Regions from separate parts of the Homo sapiens genome. Here region 1 is linked to region 2. Evidence: fine-mapped expression QTL. A gene starts in region 2. The other region holds a variant in brackets. All regions are shown on one strand. Distances are between the middles of the regions.

Region 1 (9,592 bases), 37 kb after region 2:
TAGTTCCTATACAGATCCAGCTTCTCTTCTGCTTTTAGAAAATTTCCGCCTCTTCCAGTTCTCTGATTTCCCCCTTCCACCCCACCTCCCACCACTATGAAGTTAACACCATTTTTATTTCTCTCTCAGGCCCACCTGCTCTTTCCCAGCTCTGCCGCCTGTGTGTCCGGAAGTGTCTCGGTCGAGCATGTCATCAAGCCATCCACAAGCTACATCTGCCAGAGCCACTCGAACGATTCCTCCTATACCAATAGTCCTAAGTGTTCCTGGGAAGATACTTGGAATGACACAGATTGTTGTCTGCTGTACCTAGAGTACCTAATGTAGAAGCTCAACAGCTTAGACTCCTAGTATCTTTAAATGAGCTCAGTCGAAGTAAATCCCCCATGAGCTAGAACACTTGAGGAGTGGAAACTCCTGGTTAGTTTAATGTTCTCATTAACCAAGGGGCAAGTAGAAACCATTTAGCTTTTAGCTCTTGTTGTTAAGAAACTTAAAAGAACTGTGAAGTAGAGTGAAAACAATAGGCTGTTTTTTGATGATTCGGGATCTTCTTGTACCTAAAAGTCAACATTCTGAATATTGTATAGACACATATAAATTCAGGTGGATAAGATTATAACAAATGTTAGGTATTCCAAGATATGTTCTTGATTTAGTTCCTTCCTTCAGCCCTTCCCCACTTTTTTTCTTTCTTTCCTTGAATAAATCTGGTATAATTTTGATTTTTTGTATATATATACGTATATATATATACATACATATACGTATATATATATACGTATATATATACACACACACACATGCACTCATATATTTAATGTTTTCAAAGTCCTTAATATATATAGTTCATATATGTTTTCAAAGTCCTTAATATATGTATAAAGCTTATATATATATGTTTTCAAAGTTCTTTATATATAAAGTTATATATATTTATATAGACTTTATATATATATACATATATAAAGTTAAGGACTTCAGAAACATTGTAGTTAACTGAGGCTTCCAGTTACTGCGGTCCTGGTTGATAAGAGAGACTTTGGAAGAGATCAGTGCACCCAGAGGTTGGCATCTATTGCTTATTGCTTCTGATATTAAATGCTGTTATTTGAAGTAAGCAGTTCTAGGATTGAGAACACTGGGTGTCCCCAACAACCTGAACCCACAGGCATTGTCTGAGGCATGTTGCAACCCAAGCACTGGCTTATTTTCAAAGTCAAGATGCTCAGGGTTTTTGAAATAATTACATACTGATGCCAGCCACCAAAGTGGGCTCAATGCTGGGTCAATATTTTTTTCTGTGGATAGGGGCCCAAAATAAGCACAAAGGTATATAAAAAGAGGCTTCTCCTTTTCTGTCTTCTCCTTCTTCTCATTTCTCTCTCCTTCTGTCACCCCTCCTCTTCCTCTATTCTTTCTCTTTTTTGTGAATTTAGAACATGGGAACTGGATAGACTTTTAATTATTGTAAGTATTACTGTCATGGTTCAGTATTCAGTTCTAAAATGAAAATTCCCTCTCAGATCATCCTAAGACTCATTTCACACATGTTTTTTTTTCCCCCAATTTTTCTAGACCTTTGGCTCTCAACTGGAGACAATTTTGCCCCACTCCCACTGAGACATTTGTCAATGTCTGCAGACATGTTTAGTTGCAACAACTGGGGGAGAATTGCTACTATCATCTAGACGGTGGAGATCAGGGATGCAGCTAATCACCCTACAGTGCACAGGAGCCAGCAACAAAGAATTATCAGATCTGGCCGGGCATGGTGGCTCACGCCTGTAATCCCAGCATTTTGGGAGGCCGAGGCAGGCAGATCGCACTGTCAGGAGTTCGAGAACCGCCTGGCCACTATGGTGAAACCCTGTCTCTACTAAAAATACAAAAGTTAGCCAGGCGTGGTGGCAGGTGCCTATAGTCCCAGCTACTTGGGAGGCTGAGGCAGGAGAATCACTTGAACCCGGGAGGCGGAGATTGCAGTAAGCCAAGATCACGCCACTGCACTCCAGCCTGGGTGACAGAGCGAGACTCCGTCTCAAAACAAAAAAAAAAAAAAGAAAGAAAGAAAGAAAGAAAAACAAACAAAAAAAAGAATTATCAGGTACAAAATGTCAATAGTGCCAAGAGTGAGAAACCCTTCTCTAAGCCTGTGCTATTCAATACAGTAGCTGCTAGCTACATATGGCTAATGAGCACAGGAATTGTGGATAGGCTGAATTAAGATGTGTTGTAAGTGTAAAATACATATTACATTTTAGTGATTGAGTAAAAAAAGAATATGAAACATTATGAACTTTGTTTTGTTTTCTTTTTTAGACGGAGTTTCACTTTTGTCATCCAGGCTCGAGTGCAATGGTATGACCTTGGCTCATTGCAACCTCTAAGCCTGTGCTATTCAATACGGTAGCTACTAGCCACATATGGCTAATGAGCACAGGAATTGTGGCTAGGCTGAATTAAGATGTGTTGCACGTGTAAAATACATATTACATTTTAATGACTGAGTAAAAAAAAGAATATGAAATACATGAACTTTTTTCTTTTCTTTTCTTTTTTGAGACGAAGTTTTGCTTTTGTCACCCAGGCTTGAGTGCAATGGCACGATCTCGGCTCACTGCAACCTCTGCCTCCCAGGTTCAAGCGATTCTCCTGCCTCAGCCTCTGGAGTAGCTGGGATTGCAGGCATCTGCCACTATGCCCGGCTAATTTTCGGTATTTTTAGTAGAGATGGGGTTTTACCATGTTGGCCAGGCTGGTCTCAAACTCCTGACCTCAACTGGTCCACCTGCCTCTTCTTTTTTTGTTTTATTTTTTATTTTTTTGTTTTGAAATATTAATAGCTTTTGATGTTGTATTTTTAATTTTTTGAAAACTTCCATACTGTTTTCCATAGTGGTTGTGGTAATTTACATTCCCACCAATAGTGTATAAGAATTCCCTTTTCTCCACATCTGCACCAGCATTTGTTATTTTCTATTTTTTGGATAGCCATTCTAACTGGGGTAAGATGATACCTCATTGTGGTTTTGATTTGCATTTTCCTGATGATTAGTGATGTCGAGCATTCTTTCATATACCTGTTGGCCATTTGTATGTCTTTTTTTTGGAGAAATGTCTATTCAGATCCTTTGCCCATTTTAAAATCAGATTATTTGTTTTGTTGTTGTCAAGTATGATTCAGCAATCCCATTACTGGATATTTATCAGAAAGAAAGGAAATCAATGTATGGAAGAGGTAGTTGCACCTCCATGTTTATTGTAGCTCTATTCAGAAAAGCAAGATATGAAATCAACTTAAATGTCTGTCAACAGATCAATGGATAAAGAAAATGTGGTATATATACAAAATGAAATACTATTCAGCCTTAAAAAAGAAGGAAATTCTGTCATTTGCAGCAACATGGATGAGCCTAGAGGACATTATGTTAAGTAAGTCACGCACAGAAAGATAAACACCATATGTTCTTGCTTACATGTGGAAGCTAAAAAAATTGAGCTCACAGAAACAGAGAGTAGAATTATGCTTATTAGAGGCTGGGAAGGGTAGTGAGGAGGGGACAATAGGGCAATGTTGGTTAATGGATACAAAATTATAATTGGATAGAAGAAATAATTTCTAGTGTTTCATAGCACTGTAGGGTAAATGTGGTTAACAATAATTTATTATGTATTTTCGAAAACCTAGAAGAGAAGATTTTGAATGTTCATAGCAGAAATGATAAATGATTGAGGTGATGGATATGCTAATCACCCTGATTTGATTACTTCTAGGTATTAAAATATCACTCTGTACCCCATAAATATATACAGTTATTACATACCAAATAAAATTAAACGAAAAAACTTTTTTGCTGATCACACAATGAAATAATCTTTTCAATATATTAGGTTAAATAGAATATATTATTAAAATTAATTTCACTGGCTTTCTTTTTACTTTTTTAGTGTGACTGTAATAACATTTTACATTACATGTGTGGCTCACATTACATTTCTATTAACAGTACTCTAAATCATTTTCTGATTTTTACAATTTTGGAATATCTAATAATCTTAATTAGTTAATTATCTGGGGGGAAAAGGTTACATTTTGATCTTACATCGTATTTCCAAAACAAATCTTGTTTTTAAAAAAAAGTTTAAAAAATTAAATACTGCTATAAAAATACTATAAGAAAATTACATGAATATACATGAAAGGGAAAGCATTTTTG[A/C]AATATATCAAAGGCAGAAAGGTTAAAGGAAAATACCGATAAACTGGAATACACCAAAAATTATGTTGCAAAAAATGCCATATATAAAATGAAATGGCAAACCAAAATAGAGGAAAACTGTATGTGACATTTATAGCAGATCAAAAGTCAATATTCTAGGGCAAAGGAGACTGTCAGATCCCACCCTTAGCTTTCTCCTTTTCCCAGTGGAGAATTTTGGTGAACAAGGATGTAAATATTACCCAAACCTTCAGTAAAGTCTAAAATGTATATGATACCTTGTGCATTTTTTAGAAGATATTAAGGAAAGAACCTAGATTATTTATCTGGCTCTACATGCTATAATATATGTATTGCATGACGTGGTGGCAAAACAATATGTAAACTTACCTGTTTCAGGTGGGATCAAATTCTCCTTCTATGAGAGATGTGACGAGAAAAACTGAAGAGTGTTTGCAAACCTTAGGAAAGTCAATTTTCACAAATCTTGAGGAAGGTACAGCGTAAGTCCAATGGCCATGAAAGGAGGTACAATTCAATGCGCCCCAAATATTGAAGGGCAGAATGATCTCAGCTGATATCTACATTTCAACATATAAAGAGTTCATTTACAAACCAATAAGAATAATATAGGTTCATGAATAGAAATATTAGCAAAGGGAATGAATAGTAAACTTATCAAATAACATACAAATAAATAGTCATAAGAATGTTAAAGATGGAAAATTGATTGAAAGAAAGGATGGATTTGAAACAGGATGAGGAGCCATTTGAGCCATCATTAGCCATGGAACGATCAAAGAGGAAAGAACGGACAGTCTCTTCCTATCATAGAACGTTTAGGAATTGGAGGCTTTCCTTCAAAGTGTTCTCGCGAGTGCATTTTTTTTTTTTTTTTTTTTTGTCATCTGGGATCTTGCTGAATGTCTGAGTACTGTGTTAAGCCCCGGGAGGCTCTAGGACATTCAACCAGTCTGTGACCCCAGGGAAGTGTTCCATTGCCCACTGCAACTGCAGACCATGGATGCCACAAATCATTTATATGGACCTCCCAACACTGGTAGGACTGTATTTGTGTTGGGGGAGGAGGTGGCACTCAAATCCTGAACAACCATTCACCAGAATCCATCTGATTGTCCAGGTCCCTGAATCCTAGAGTGGTGCCGATGTCTTACAATTTATGAATGAATGTATTAGACAAGAGGTAATCTTTAAGTTCCTTTTAAGGCCTAATCCATTAAGCTATATTTAGACCATCAGACTAATCATCTGGTTTTTATGACATTATTTTGTTACCAACTTTAGATCCAGGTTTGTTCTGCTTGCATGCAGTAAACCAATCACTGTGATACGGGTTTTGCAAAAGAGAAAAGATTTATTCACAAGGCTGCCAAGCAAGAAAGCAGGAGAACAGTGCTCAAATCCACCTTCCCAAAGATAAGCCTTAGCTATATTTACGGGTTAGGGAAGTGGGGTGGTCTAAGGCATGGGGAAAAGTAATTGACAGTGGGGATAAAAGTAACAGGTTTATTCTGTGCAAGCATAGCCAGGGTTCATGACATTACATAGGACATATAAACCCAAAATAGTGGCATTAGCATGATCTGAGGGTGGCATTTTTGGTCTTCTGACATTCAGAAGGCCATTTCTCAGGCACTTGTGGAGGCCTAGTTGAAGAGCCAGTGGCCTTAACTGGTTTGAACTGGACAGGAGCTGGCCCAAGTTCCTGAAAAACAACTGAAGCAATCATTACTGTGGTGAACTATGAATGTTATTTATAAAGTAGCCAGTGAAGGTTAAGTTTCAGAGTTCAGCAGGGTGGCATTCAACTACTGTAGCCTTCAGCTTCATGAAAAAAGAAAAGAAATAACAAAAAGCAAGCCACCAAAAGCAAGCAGGGCGGACAGACCTGATCAAATTAACCCTTCAGTTTCCATTTTGCCTGCGGTTTGGGGTTCTTAGATACTAATACAGATTATTTCACTTTTTACACTATATGGGATGTTTTTTTCCCAAAACAGTATATTTTTACAATTTCAGTCATATTTGAAGTGCCCTAAGATAGCTTCTCAATTAATTCCTTTAATACATTTTTTACTTGGCATCTACTATGTGCCAGACACTGTAGAACATTGTGAAAGACAGACATGCTGTTTGCTTCCAAAAAACTCATGTGTTAGTGAGGACAACAGGGAATAAACAATACAAATATAATATCATATCAGGAAGTGATAAAAAGAAAAATAAAGCAGATTAAAGAGTGATGAAAGAGGCTTACTATTTTAGATAAGCTGATTAGGCAAGGTCCCTGGCAGGGTGACTGAATTTTGGAATAACTAACTACTCACATATGTATATAATATTTATTAGTTAACTTTTACTGTTAAGATTTTTCAGTATTTTCAGTGCATCATATTTTTTATTCCTTTGCCTGATTTAACATAGATATCCTATTATAAAAGTATCTATGATTCCAGCTTTTCCCATAAACCATATTGTAATGATTTTCTGTTTCAAACCCTTTGGGACAACCTTTTAAAATATATCATATTCCTTAAGTATTTCCATATTGTTAGATACTTAAATTATTTCTAGTTTCTTGCTATTATAGATAACATTGATGTCAACCTCATTTTAAAATAAATCTTCAAAAATGTTTGAAGTATTTCTTAGATTTCCAGAAGTGTGGTTTACATATAAAAACTATTTAAAATAATAGTTTAAAATAATTTAAAATATATACACAATGAATCATTTTAAGGAATGAATATTTTCATAACCAAATACCCAATATTGCCTATCCATAAACCATCTGACTATGTCTATGTAGACATATATGTATTTACCATCTATTTAGCTAGCTATTATTTATATGACTGTATCAGTCCATCATCTACCTTTACCTTTTATTTAAAAAAAATAGGCTGGGCGCAGTGGCTCACGCCTGTAATCCCAGCACTTTGGGAGGCCACGGCGGGCGGATCACGAGGTCAGGAGATCGAGACCATCCTGGCTAACACGGTGAAACCCCGTCTCTACTAAAAAATACAAAAAATTAGCCAGGCGTGTTGGCGGGCGCCTGTAGTCCCAGCTACTCGGGAGGCTGAGGCAGGAGAATGGCGTGAACTCGGGAGGCGGAGCTTGCAGTGAGCCAAGATCGCACCACTGCACTCCAGCCTGGGCAACAGAACAAGACTACGTCTCAAAAAATAAAAATAAAAAATAAAAAATAAGCTTGCTATGTCACTTGAAGATTTAAGTCTCAACACCTTCTAAATTCCTTAAATTATTTAAATGTTTAGGTATGTAATCCAACGTCTCTAATTTTGGTTCACATTTGATTAAGGAACTGTTTCTCCCAAAGTAATTCTCCTGTCTTTTATTTCTCATATTGCTTTGTCAAATAAACATGAGGTTTGTACATGAATCTTTTTTCAGTAACAATGCTCATTGCTGAGAAGATTTTATGAATTGAACGCAAAGAGAATAGCTGACACTTCAGAGACATCACCTGAAGCTGCCATGGTGAGGGATGAATCGCTGAATAACCACAACTTGTGGGGGAGGATGCTCTCCACACTGCAGGACTTCACGTTTTTACCCATTGCATTATCACTGCCAGGGGCGGCACTTGCATGGATATATTCCATTTGTATATGGAATACATCATCTCCTTCCCTTAGCAGAGCCTGTACCAGGACAAATACACAGATCATACTTGAAATAGTAGCTTCTTATTTTAACAAATTTGCTTGTAAACAAATGTACACCAGGTCTTAATTTCCATTTATTAATTTTTCTTCTCCCACCGTTGTTATATCTTGAAGTTTCCAGCTTACAAAAAATTTTCAATAAAACAATTAATATCTGTATGCCCATCACCTCAATTCACCAATTGTTAGCATTTTGCTACATTTGCTTCTCTATGTATGTGTGTATGCACACACACATATATACAAGTACATGTATGTATATACATGTACATGCATATATACACACATATACATATACAGGCATGTATACACATACATATGCATATACAAATGTATACACATATATACATATATAAATGCACATGTGCACACACACCCATATATGTAAACTCATATATGATTAACACATATCCATATATTAAAAAAATGAACGATTTGTAAGTTGTGGGCATCATGATCCTTCACCAGGGCTAGAATCAGGATTAGGTGAGTGAGGCAAAAAATTTAAGAGGGCAAAAAAAGTCATTGATGTGCATATTTTAGTGCACTGTTTTGAAAAGTCAATGTTAAGGCAAAAAGCCCATGATAGCCAAAATAGCCTGCAAGACAGGCTCTTGTTGTTTATGTCCCTGCATTATTGTGCAATGAGAATAGTGTTTCCAATCAGCCTCTGGTTCTGGGATATGTGGCTGCTGGGTTTTTGAGGAGTGACAATGCCATGCAAACAGATTGGGCAACGCAGGCTTTATACATACTTGTGTTTTGACTGCGCAGCTTACATTAACTTTTTATACTTGGTGCAAAATATGCATAAAGGCATACATTTCCCTTTTGGCCTCTTGCTCCCATATGGTTCAGCACAGAGCAGTTCAGTGTGCATCTCCTAAGAACACAGAGATTCTCCTGTGGAACTGTGGTGTAGTAATCACACACAGGAGGTTTGACACTGATGCACAACTATCCTGTATATCCAGATTTAAGTTCTCACACTTGTGGCATTAATGATATATTTTCTGTCATGTTCCACCATTCAGGATCTCTTTGAGGATCATGCATCGAACGTAGTTACCAAGTCTCTTTATTCTCTTTTAATCTAGAAAGCTTCCCGTCCCCGCTTTTGACTTTCATGCCATTGGCATTTTTGAAGAGTCCAGTCCCATTGTTATGTGATTATCTCTCAATTTTGATCCGCCTGATTGTTTCCTCAAGAATACTGCATAATGCCAGATTTTTGAAAAAACACATTCTTATTTGAGTCTTATCGTACTGCTTGGCGGAGTAGGACTGACTGACTTCTCTCTAAAGCAGTAGAAGCAGAGTATTCCACGTTGTCAGAGCAGATGTATACCTTTTAGGTGTTAAAGGTTTTGTGCTAGAAAAATTGCCAGCTGAAATAAGAAGAAGCTTCAGCTCCTGGACCAACTTTGACTGATTGGAAGTGACTTTGAAGGCTCCCCCAAGGTCTCAGTGTAACTGAGCATCCCAGCCTCAAAATGCATTTTAAAACTTTTTTTTTTCTTTCTTGCTTTCAGCGTTGAAACATACTTTGAAACTCTTTGTTTCTCTCTTTTCCACCAGGCACTTTTGTGAACAGTGCTCACTTATCTAATTACATGCTTGCTTAGAAATTCCAGGGGTCAATTTTTAAGCAAAAAAAAA
Region 2 (9,944 bases):
AAAATCACCGACACACTACTAGTACTTTGTTCCTGTTGTATGCATTCTCCTAGGTAGAGCCTCCATCTTCAGTTGTGTTTGTGAAGGTATTTTTTGCTTTTTAAATACTGGGGACCGATATCACTGTTGATAGTGCAGAGAAACCCTCCACATTTTTCAGTGCATAATTGAGTTTTCTATAAATGCCTTCGTGTTTTCTGAGCAGAATGTACGAGGTGTGCCATCCCAAAACCAGCTGCTACCCTGTCCTTTTAATGTAAGTCACTCCCCTTCACTGTGGCCTCGCTGATGTCTGATAAGTATTGTCAGTGTGCAAAAGGCTTTACTTCAGAATGGTTTATTTATAGCAAACTAAGTTGAAAATTTTAGAAACAGTCTTTGTGGGTGGATGTTATTAACTGTCATTGTTGTTGCCCAGAGCCATGGGTTTTTTAACCCCAAATTATCCACATGGTGTGTATTATGAATTCTTTGAACTCTTAAGGTTTTTGTGAGAAAAGGACTGTGAATTCAAAACAATAAGGCACTTGTGGGTGCACTACATAGATTCTGACAGTGTTGTGATTCTGTATAGGATTTTTAAAAATGACAACATTCACAAAATTTATTACTTTTTAAAAAATAACATGCCTATTAACTGGTTGCACTGATATAAAAGAAATATATTTGTGTTTTGTTTGTACTAAAATGCAAAAGCAAGAGTGCAATTTTTAAAATCTAGAAGTTAGGGGTTTTGTTGGAGAAAAATGGACTGATCTTTAAACTATTCAGTCTTACTGGGATTTTTATGCATAGAAACTCACATATAAACATGAAATAAACAGTGCCAGTATTCATAGGAAAGTGAGAAACTGTAATATTTGGCCATTATTCTATTCAACAGGTTTTAGAGGCATGCCACCATTTTTTCCTTATATTTTTGCTTAATTTTTTTAAATTGTCATTTAATTCTTAAACTGTCATTTATTTGAGATGGAAATAAGATCTAAAGTTAGTTGCCTTTGCCTGTAAAACATGTGATTTGCAAATTATTATTTTTCTTTTTTTTAACAAATGGAAGTAAATTTGTTTCACGTAAATCTTAATTTTCAACCTTTCTGGATACCTTAATTGTAACTGTCAGTTTGCACTGGTCGGTATATGGAAACACATTGCTCTACCCTGCTACTTAGTTGATTTTAAAGTGAATTTACAGTGATGAGAAATTTGTGAAAAATATATTGTATTTCTTTTGATGTTTCAAAAGGTTGCCTATGAAAAACTGATTTGTTAAAACATGCTACATGTCCAAAAATAAAGACCAGAATGACATTTTGATAATTTTCTGAGTTTGTCTTATTTTATGAACAGACTATTATTTACTAGTGGAACAGGCTATCCCTGCCCCCGACACATTCTTTTTCAGTGCAATTTGGATGTGTTGCTTGGTCTATTAGTAAAACAAGAAATACCCTTTGGGCGATGAATTACTCTGTCATTTTTTGTTTCTAGAATATCTTCTCTCTCTCACTCATGGAATAGCGAGTTCAATTGTGCCTTTGTTTCCTTACCCAAATAAGCCCTTGTTTTTCATTGCCCTAGCATTATCACGTGAGACAAGGAAAATATCTACAAACTATACTGTGTATGTGAGCTACATAATTATGCTTTCTACTTTGCCCAACACAAATTTGTAAACTTTCTTAAAACATTATGAGACTTGTGATTTTCTTTCTTTCTTTCTTTCTTTTTTTTTTAGCTCATCAGCTATTAGGGTATTTTCATTTATTTATTTATATATTTTTGAGACGGAGTTTCGCTCTTGTTGCCCAGGCTGGAGTGCAGTGGCACGATCTTGGCTCACTGCAACCTCCGCCTCCCGGGTTCAAATGATTCTCCCGCCTCAACCTCCTGAGTAGCTGGGATTACGGGCGCCCACCACCACACTGGCTAACTTTAGTATTTTTTAGTAGAGATGGGGTTTCACCATTTTGGCCGGGCTGATCTCGAACTCCTGATCTCATGATCTGCTGTTAGTGTATTTTATGTGTGGCCCAAGACAAATCTTCCAGCGTGGCCCAGGGAAGCCAAAAGATTGGACATCCCTGATTTAGTTTCTCCCACTCCTTTTGTGGGAAGCAGTGGAAAGCAGTCACCTATGTTTATGTTTTGATTTATCTTATGCCAAAACTTATTTTTGGCAAAGTCAGGGTAGTATAGGTCTGTGTTTACTTTTGTGAAGTAATTTTAAAGCCTCTTTATCCATCTCTGCATTCCCAAATGGATGTGGCTAGATGTTGAATTGTATCATCCTGTGGCTGGATTTTTTAATATAAAATTATGAAAAAGTTCTATGTAGAATTTGATTTGTAGCCTTTAGTACTTGGGGGAACTGATTTTTATCCTTTATCATTTCTATTTGGGTATGGCTCAGTGGTTCTCAACTAGGGCTTGGGGGGACAGTTTTGTTTCCCAGGGGACATCTGGCAATGTCTGGTTGTTACTACTAGGTGGGGTGGGGCATTGGCATCAAGTGAGTAGAGGTCAGGGTTGCTGCTAAGCATTCCGCGATGCTCTGGGCCATCCCCCACAACACATGTATCTGTCCCAAAATGTCAATAGTGCTGAGGCTGAGAAACCTTGGTGCTGTTGATGATTTCATCTGTGAAAGATAGCATGAATCAACTGTCCTTATGTATCAGTAGCCTTTTATGCCCATCACAAATGTAATGTTCAAATATAGTAAAGATGGTCTTGCCGGGCATGGTGGCTCACGCCTGTAATCCCAGCACTTTGGGAGGCCGAGGTGGGCGGATCACGAGGTCAGGATATCGAGACCATCCCGGCTAACACGGTGAAACCCCGTGTCTACTAAAAATACAAAAAATTAGCTGGGCGTGGTGGCGAGCACCTGTAGTCCCAGCTACTTGGGAGGCTGAGGCAGGAGAATGGCGTGAACCCGGGAGGCGGAGCTTGCAGTGAGCCGAGATTGCGCCACTGCACTCCAGCCTAGGAGTCAGAGTGAGACTCCGTCTCAAAAAAAAAAAAAAAAAAAAAAGATGGCCTCTCAGAAATAGTATAGACACCCATTTGAACCTTAATAAAGTTGAGCTTTTCATGGCCAACTTTTTTGGCGTGTAAAACATAGGACAGCCATGTTTTAAATGAAAAGACCAAAACAAGATTGAATAATGTTATAGAACAATGTACATCACTGGTCTGACATGACTAAATGATTGCCTACTTAGAGTATAATTGAAGAAAGATAAATGAAAAGGACTAAAAGAGTTGTATTCATGTATTTTCATACACTGGCATTCTACCAGGTAATATAAGCTCAGTAAAGTAAATCTTATGTTAATGTCTGTTCCTTGAGAGTTAAGACGACTCAAGGTCTTTATAGTGCTCTGATACACTGAAATCGATGAGCTGTATGTTGTGACTCAAGATTGTATTCTTACATGTCAGCTTTTTAATGTAGTGAAACAGTTCTTAACCAGGCAGTCATTCTAATTTGCCTGCATGCTAGGAGAAATTCCCATATTTTTGCATAAATCATTTGTTAAGATTTATTAGGCCACTTGTATAACTATATTTTGGCTTGTCTTTTCAATTGATTTTTAAAATTTACAAAATCGAACATAGCCAAGAATGAAGGCAGAGACCTAGAGTGATGAGGAAAACTAAAAATAAACCCATTTCACTTGTGTTGGCCAGCTGATAAGAGAAAATTGCCCAACTAGAGAAGGTTGATTCATGAAATATTTGGGTACTTCATCCAGAACCTAGGGCATCTCTTTTGTCCATTTCACTATGACTCTTCCATGATCAAGGATAGCCCACATTTTTCAGAAATGGGCACCACCTTTACCAATGCTTGAAATGCAAGTGAATGATCAGGAGGGAACCTTGCCATGGGACCTTGTCCCAGATGGAACTACCATGGCGAGTAGTCTGATGCTTCTAGTGTGACACTTACTTGGAGAGGCATCCAAGATAGGCCTTTTATTAAATACAGGCTTGGCCGGGTGCAGTGGCTCACACCTGTAATCCTAGCACTTTGGGAGGCCAAAGTGGGTGGATCACCTGAGGTCAGGGGTTCGAGACCAGCCTGGCCAACATGGCGAAACCTCGTCTCTACTAAAAATACGAAAATTATCCAGGCGTGGTGACGCATGCCTGTAATCCCAGCTTCTTGGGAGGCTGAGGCAGGAGAATCGCTTGAACCCAGGAGGCAGAGGTTGCAGTGAGCCGCGATCGCACCATTGCACTCCAGCCTGGGCAACAGAGTAAGACTCCATCTTAAAACTAAATACATACATACGTGCATACATGCATACATACATACATACAGCTTTAGGGTAAATTGTCTTTTTTTTTTTTTTTTTTGAGACAGAATCTTGCTCTTGTCACCCAGGCTGGAGTGCAGTGGCGCGATCTCGGCTCACTGCAACCTCCGCCTCCCAGGTTCAAGCAATTCTCCTGCCTCAGCCTCCTGAGTAGCTGGGATTACAGGCACCTGCCACCACGCCCAGCTAATTTTTGTACTTTTAGTAGAGACGGGGGTTTCGCCATGTTGGCCAGGCTGGTCGCAAACTCCTGACCTCAGGTGATCCGCCTGCTTCAGCCTCCCAAAGTGCTGGGATTACAGGAGTCAACCACCGCGCCCGGCCAGGTAAATGGTCTTTTTTAACTGGTCATATTTTAGATTTGGATTTAATCCTCTATAAACTTCAGAATTAAGAGAAAATGAAATGCTCCAGGGAGTAGTATTTCCCACTTAGAACATACAGCATATTTGCACTTCTTTTGTATGTCAAATAACTTGCTTTGTTTCTGTGGAAGCCAAGAAGTTTCTATCTTTCCAACCCTGCTTTCTAACATAAAATAGGAAAAATAGGGGTTTAGGAATATAAAATGTTTGGATATGAATCTTATCTGTTAGATAGTACTGAGTTATGTAGTTCTAGAACTATTGGATGTTTCTGGTTAGAAGGAAGTTTCTTTAGTTTATTTAACACTGCTGTGGAGTCAGCACATGCAGTCGCCAAATCAGTTAGATTAGAACCTACAGAGATCTCGGTAACAGGAGCACTGAGTGCTAGAAGGTTTAAAATAGATGTCATATGATACCAATTATAACTCAGTGAAATTTTACAGTCCTAGGACCCTATACAGAGCATAAGCCAAAATGGAAGATGGTCCTGTTTTCTATGGCTTTAAAAACATTTTTATTACAATGTTTGCTACGTTTTTTTTCTTTAAGCTTTTAATTAAAGTTTTTTTGGCTCTCCTAACCCATTTCTATATCGTCAAAGGAAATAGAAAAGAAGCGGCTAGGATAGCAGAAGAGATCTATGGTGGAATTTCAGGTAAAAGTACATGAATTTGTTCCTAATATTTAAAGAAAATCCCTCCTAGATAATTCATATGACTAGTATTTCTGGAAGGCAGATTATATTTATACTTTGATTTTAAGTGGGTAGTTTGAAAAATTGTCACTTAAAGTAGCAAATGCTGTTGGCTGCATCAATTTGTGGAGGATTTTCAGCTTTATTTTTTGCAAGTTCGTAGATCTTGTAGCAGTTGTTATTTAAGAAGTAAATAGGTAGTGGCTTACTAAGAGTATTTTGAGAAACTTCATTTCTACTAGCCAAAGTAATTACTTGTATATAATTATTTTCTTTAATATTTTAAAGCAAACTTTAACAATGAAGGGCATTCTAACCAGACTAAATTCTCTCAGGAAATAGAATGACTAATAAATTATAATTAAAGCAGCAAACGTGGCAAGCTATGTGTATTTTTTTTGCTGTCATTTGCAACTGGAATTGATTAACCACTTGTCACTGTCAGGAAAAGCTCTTCACTAAACCCATTTTATATGGTAGCATGCAAAGCACTCCAAACAAAGTTTATTCTAACATGAAATGCCAAGATTTGGGCAAAACATTTTAAATTCTCATGCTTTGTAGAGAATAGTGTCCATTTCTTTCAAGAAATGATTTACTTTAATTGTGGTGAGATGCTACAAAAGTAAATGAGTCAGATATCCCTGTCACTCCTGGGATTGTCACTTAATAGAGGAGTATTTATTCATAAACAGAGTTCAGAATTTCCCCGTGTATTTTTAGTGTTTGCAGGGGTTCCAGGATTACATCATTCTTTATCTAGTATCCATTTCAATTTGCATCCAGGATTCTCTTTCAAAATAGTCTTATGTGATTCCAATACACTAGACAACTCAGAAGACACTAGACAACAGCAGTCTTATCTAAAGAAATAAGACCTCCAAGGACGAAGCATCAGAATGCTTCAATTAACTGGGGAAAATGAGAAGAATTGTGAAGTTTCAGAACGTATCAGAAGGTCCGGACCATGGAAAGAGATTTCTTTTGGGGATTATATTTGTCACACATTTCAGGGAGGTATGTTACTTTGACTAGTTACAAAAAAAAAAAAAAAAAGTAATGCTTCTGATAAGTTTCAAGTTAAGCATGATCTGAAAAGTTATCTTCTAATTTAATTTGTCAATTTGGGCAAGGGCTTTCTAAAATTTTCAATAATAGTTTTGGTGTTCTCATAGATAAATCATTCTTCTGGTCTAAATTAGATGAAGTCCAACAAAGTCAATATTGGCAAGAACATGTTACAAATGTTTTCTCCTGTTGCACCTGCGCATTATTTCTGTCTTTGTGGTCTTTAATTAAGTGCACTCTTTTTTTTTTTTTTTTTTTTTGAGATGGAGTCTCGCTCTGTAGCCTAGGCTGGAGTGCAGTGGCACCATCTCGGCTCACTGCAACCTCCGCCTCCCAGGTCCCGGTTGAAGCAATTCTCCTGTCTTAGCCTCCTGAGTAGCTGGGATTACAGGCACACGCCACCATGCCCAGCTAATTTTTTTGTATTTTTAGTAGAGACAGGGTTTCACCATGTTGGCCAGGCTGGTCTTGAACTCCTGACCTCATGATCCGCCCGCCTCGGCCTCGCAAAGTGCTGGGATTACAGGCGTGAGCCACCGCGCCCGGCCTCAAGTGCACTCTTAAAAAAGGTATAAAACCTCCTTATAGTCAAAACCCATGTAAGCATGGTTTGAATTTAATCTGGAGCTGGAATACAAATCTCTTAAATACAGTTCGTTCATTCTGTAGTGCAAATATCTTTACTTGTTCAATCTCTTAAAATAGGTTAATTTGCAAGTAGCATAGTATTCTAAGGTCAAAAACATTTTTCAATTATTGTTAAAGAGGCAGGGAATGGTGCATGTTAATTTCCCAGTTTTATTTCTTTCATATATATATGTATATGTGTGTGTGTGTGTGTATACATATACACGAATCCCCCCACCCCCAAATTTACCAAGATTTGGTAAATAAGACTTTCTGTTTTTTTGTTTGTTTTGAGATGGATTCTTGCTCTGTCACCCAGGCTGGAGTTCAGTGGCACGATCTTAGCTCAGTGCAACCTCCTCCTCTGGGGTTCAAGCAATTCTCGTGCCTCAGCCTCCTGAGTAGCTGGGATTATAGGCGCACGCCACCACGCCCGGCTAATTTTTGTATTTTTAGTAGAGATGGGGTTTCGCTATGTTGGCCAGGCTGGTCTCGAACTCCTGACCTCAAGTGATCTGCCCACCTTGGCCTCCCAAAGTGCTGGGATTATAGGTGTGAGCACCTGTGCCTGGCCGCTAAATAAGTCTTTCTATAAGAATGTAGGCAGTAACATGCCTGGACCAGTATTTTTCACATGGTTCTGTGTTTTTCTTTTGATACCACTGTTAACAGTCAGATACTATATTATTACAAATCTTCCCCCGCCCCACAAAATACTTAAAAAATAACAACTCTTTATTCAAAACCCAGTCCTTTAAATATTAATGCAACTAGGCCAATACACCTAAACAATAAATCCTCCTCAACCCCTCAGTCTCTCTAATTCCTAAATTATCCCATAACAATATATTTAGGTGTATTAAAAATCAAGAACAAAATTTTGTGGAAGTGTTAAACTCAAACCAGAAATCAAACTCAAACCAGAAATCACCTTTGCTTTTGGTCACTTTTGCACTGGTCAGACAAATGTTTGTTGGGAAAATATATGACATTTAATCAGTAAATTAGCTAATTGACTTACAAAAGTCCCAGCCCAAGGTTAAGTTTCTTGAGTCTGCTAGCATATGCTATTCCTGTAAACTATTGTCAGCAATGTCAAAAGCAAGGAAGGGCAGGAAAAACCTAGCCAGCACACAGGTTAGACTTTTGTAGGTCCAGAGCACTCTTTTTTTTTTTTTTTTTTGGAAGCTGCATTTAACACCACATGCCTCATTAAATATCATTCTTTGTGCTGTAAAACCTTTTGGAAAGTTGTTTTTTTTTTTTTTTTTTTGTGCAGTGGGCGGGTGGGGGTGGATTTCATAGTCTGGAATACATTATTTTATATGTCTTTGTGGCTTAAACTATTACATTTGCTGATCACTCATCATAGTTGAATTAAGCCATGGTTGACTGTTATTAGTTTTGGTTTTTAAGCTTCTTTGTTTATTTTGTCTATTATATGTATATTTTTTTTTCTTTTTTAAAGTTTAATACATTGTCCTTGGCCTTTGGTGTTATGCCTAGAGCACCAGATGGATCACTGGATCCCACCTTCAGTCCATAGATATTTCTGCAGGCACTTTCTCAGGAGAGATGTATTGTATGATTTTTCAAGCTTTGCTAATTTGTATTAAGCTATGTTTAGTACTGTGACTTGGTCATCAAGAAAGAAAATATAGTGTAGATACAGATTGATCATCTGTTATTCATAACCCTTCAGCCAGCCATGTTTCAGAATTCAATAGCTTTTGAATGTTAGAAAGATCATACAATGTGCATACTGTCTATTGCACAGCACTTCTGGTGGGGCCTGGAGCTGCCTCCCACAGTCAAACATTTTGATCTTTCTATAGTGAACATATAGGTATTCACACTAGATGGAAATATAAAACAAATAATAAATTGCTTAACCTAAGTCCTGGCCATGCTTTGCTGCTAAACAAGTTTGCATCAAATTTGGGGTAAAGCTTGGTTTTCAGAATTGGAGGAACTTTACAAGTGCAGATAAGACGTTGTAGAACTGTAGTGCCCTCTTTCAAAAAAAAAAAGGGCTATTTTAAGCTGTGTCTAAAAGATCAGTCCTATTCTAAGTTTTATGCTTAAAATCACTTGTTGATGGACTGACCATGATTTGACAGCTATGCCTCTGCCTAACTCAGCATTCTGAATCCTTTTTCCTGTCTTTTCCATTCCAATAGGATCGCCTTAGTTTCATTCTTGCCCAAACCTCGACCTAGCCTTCTGCTCTTATTTAGTTTTGCTGGTTGTCTCCACAAACATTGGCCTAACCATCCTCTAAGTTGCATATCAGGTGCCTGCTGGCTTTTCCTAGGTTGGGACAACCAGTCCTTGGCAGAGGCTCTACCTTCCACCAGTCTCCTTTAGCTCAGCTCTCCCGCCCTTAAGAGTTCAAAGGAGCCTTCTTTCTAATACACTGCAACATAGTTAATTGTGTCTAACACAGCTCACTGTGTCTCATCTCCTCTCTAGGACTGGACATTCTGGAGAATATTTATTTTAACTCAGTTTTATTACAATATTTTAGATATCTCAGGAAATACATTCTATTTTCCCAGTTACCTTTGTTTCACATAAAATACCATTAATTCTGCTAGGCTCTTGCCTGTATTTTGGTTCAAAATTAAAATTCCTTATGAATTTTCTTTTCCTTAATAAATGCTACAGAAGATTTGTTTCATATGATTTTATTTTTTATTTTTTGAGTTGGAGTTTCGCTCTTATTGCCCAAGCTGGAGTGCAGTGATGTGATCTCGGCTCACTGCAACCTCTGCCTCCTGGGTTCAAGTGATTCTCCTGCCTCAGCCTGCTGAGTAGCTGGGAGTACAGGCGCCCGCCACCACACTGGCTAATTTTTGT

Which allele goes with the higher level. Alleles are on the strand shown, and positions count from the first base shown. SD is a standard deviation of normalised expression in the study named.
With allele C in place of A in region 1, the expression in skeletal muscle of the gene that starts at base 5,136 in region 2 is higher (small effect, 0.31 SD a copy in GTEx).

Evidence for each region. PIP is the estimated chance that this variant, and not a neighbour inherited with it, causes the effect.
Region 1: its variant is the best candidate, but not a certain one, in a credible set for the expression of ASB11 in skeletal muscle (GTEx, PIP 0.77).

What each region holds. Positions count from the first base shown.
Region 1 is chrX:15,274,167-15,283,758 of GRCh38, reverse strand. ASB11 (ankyrin repeat and SOCS box containing 11) reads left to right here. Exons shown (of 7, transcript NM_080873.3): 7 at 130-2,062. The coding sequence ends at 254. Among named protein-coding and RNA genes, the nearest start is that of ASB9, 8.9 kb to the right of the region's middle. The variant A/C (reference allele first, on the strand shown) is at 4,221.
Region 2 is chrX:15,310,832-15,320,775 of GRCh38, reverse strand. ASB11 (ankyrin repeat and SOCS box containing 11) reads left to right here and starts at 5,136. Exons shown (of 7, transcript NM_080873.3): 1 at 5,136-5,351. The coding sequence starts at 5,171. PIGA (phosphatidylinositol glycan anchor biosynthesis class A) reads left to right here. Exons shown (of 6, transcript NM_002641.4): 6 at 1-1,320.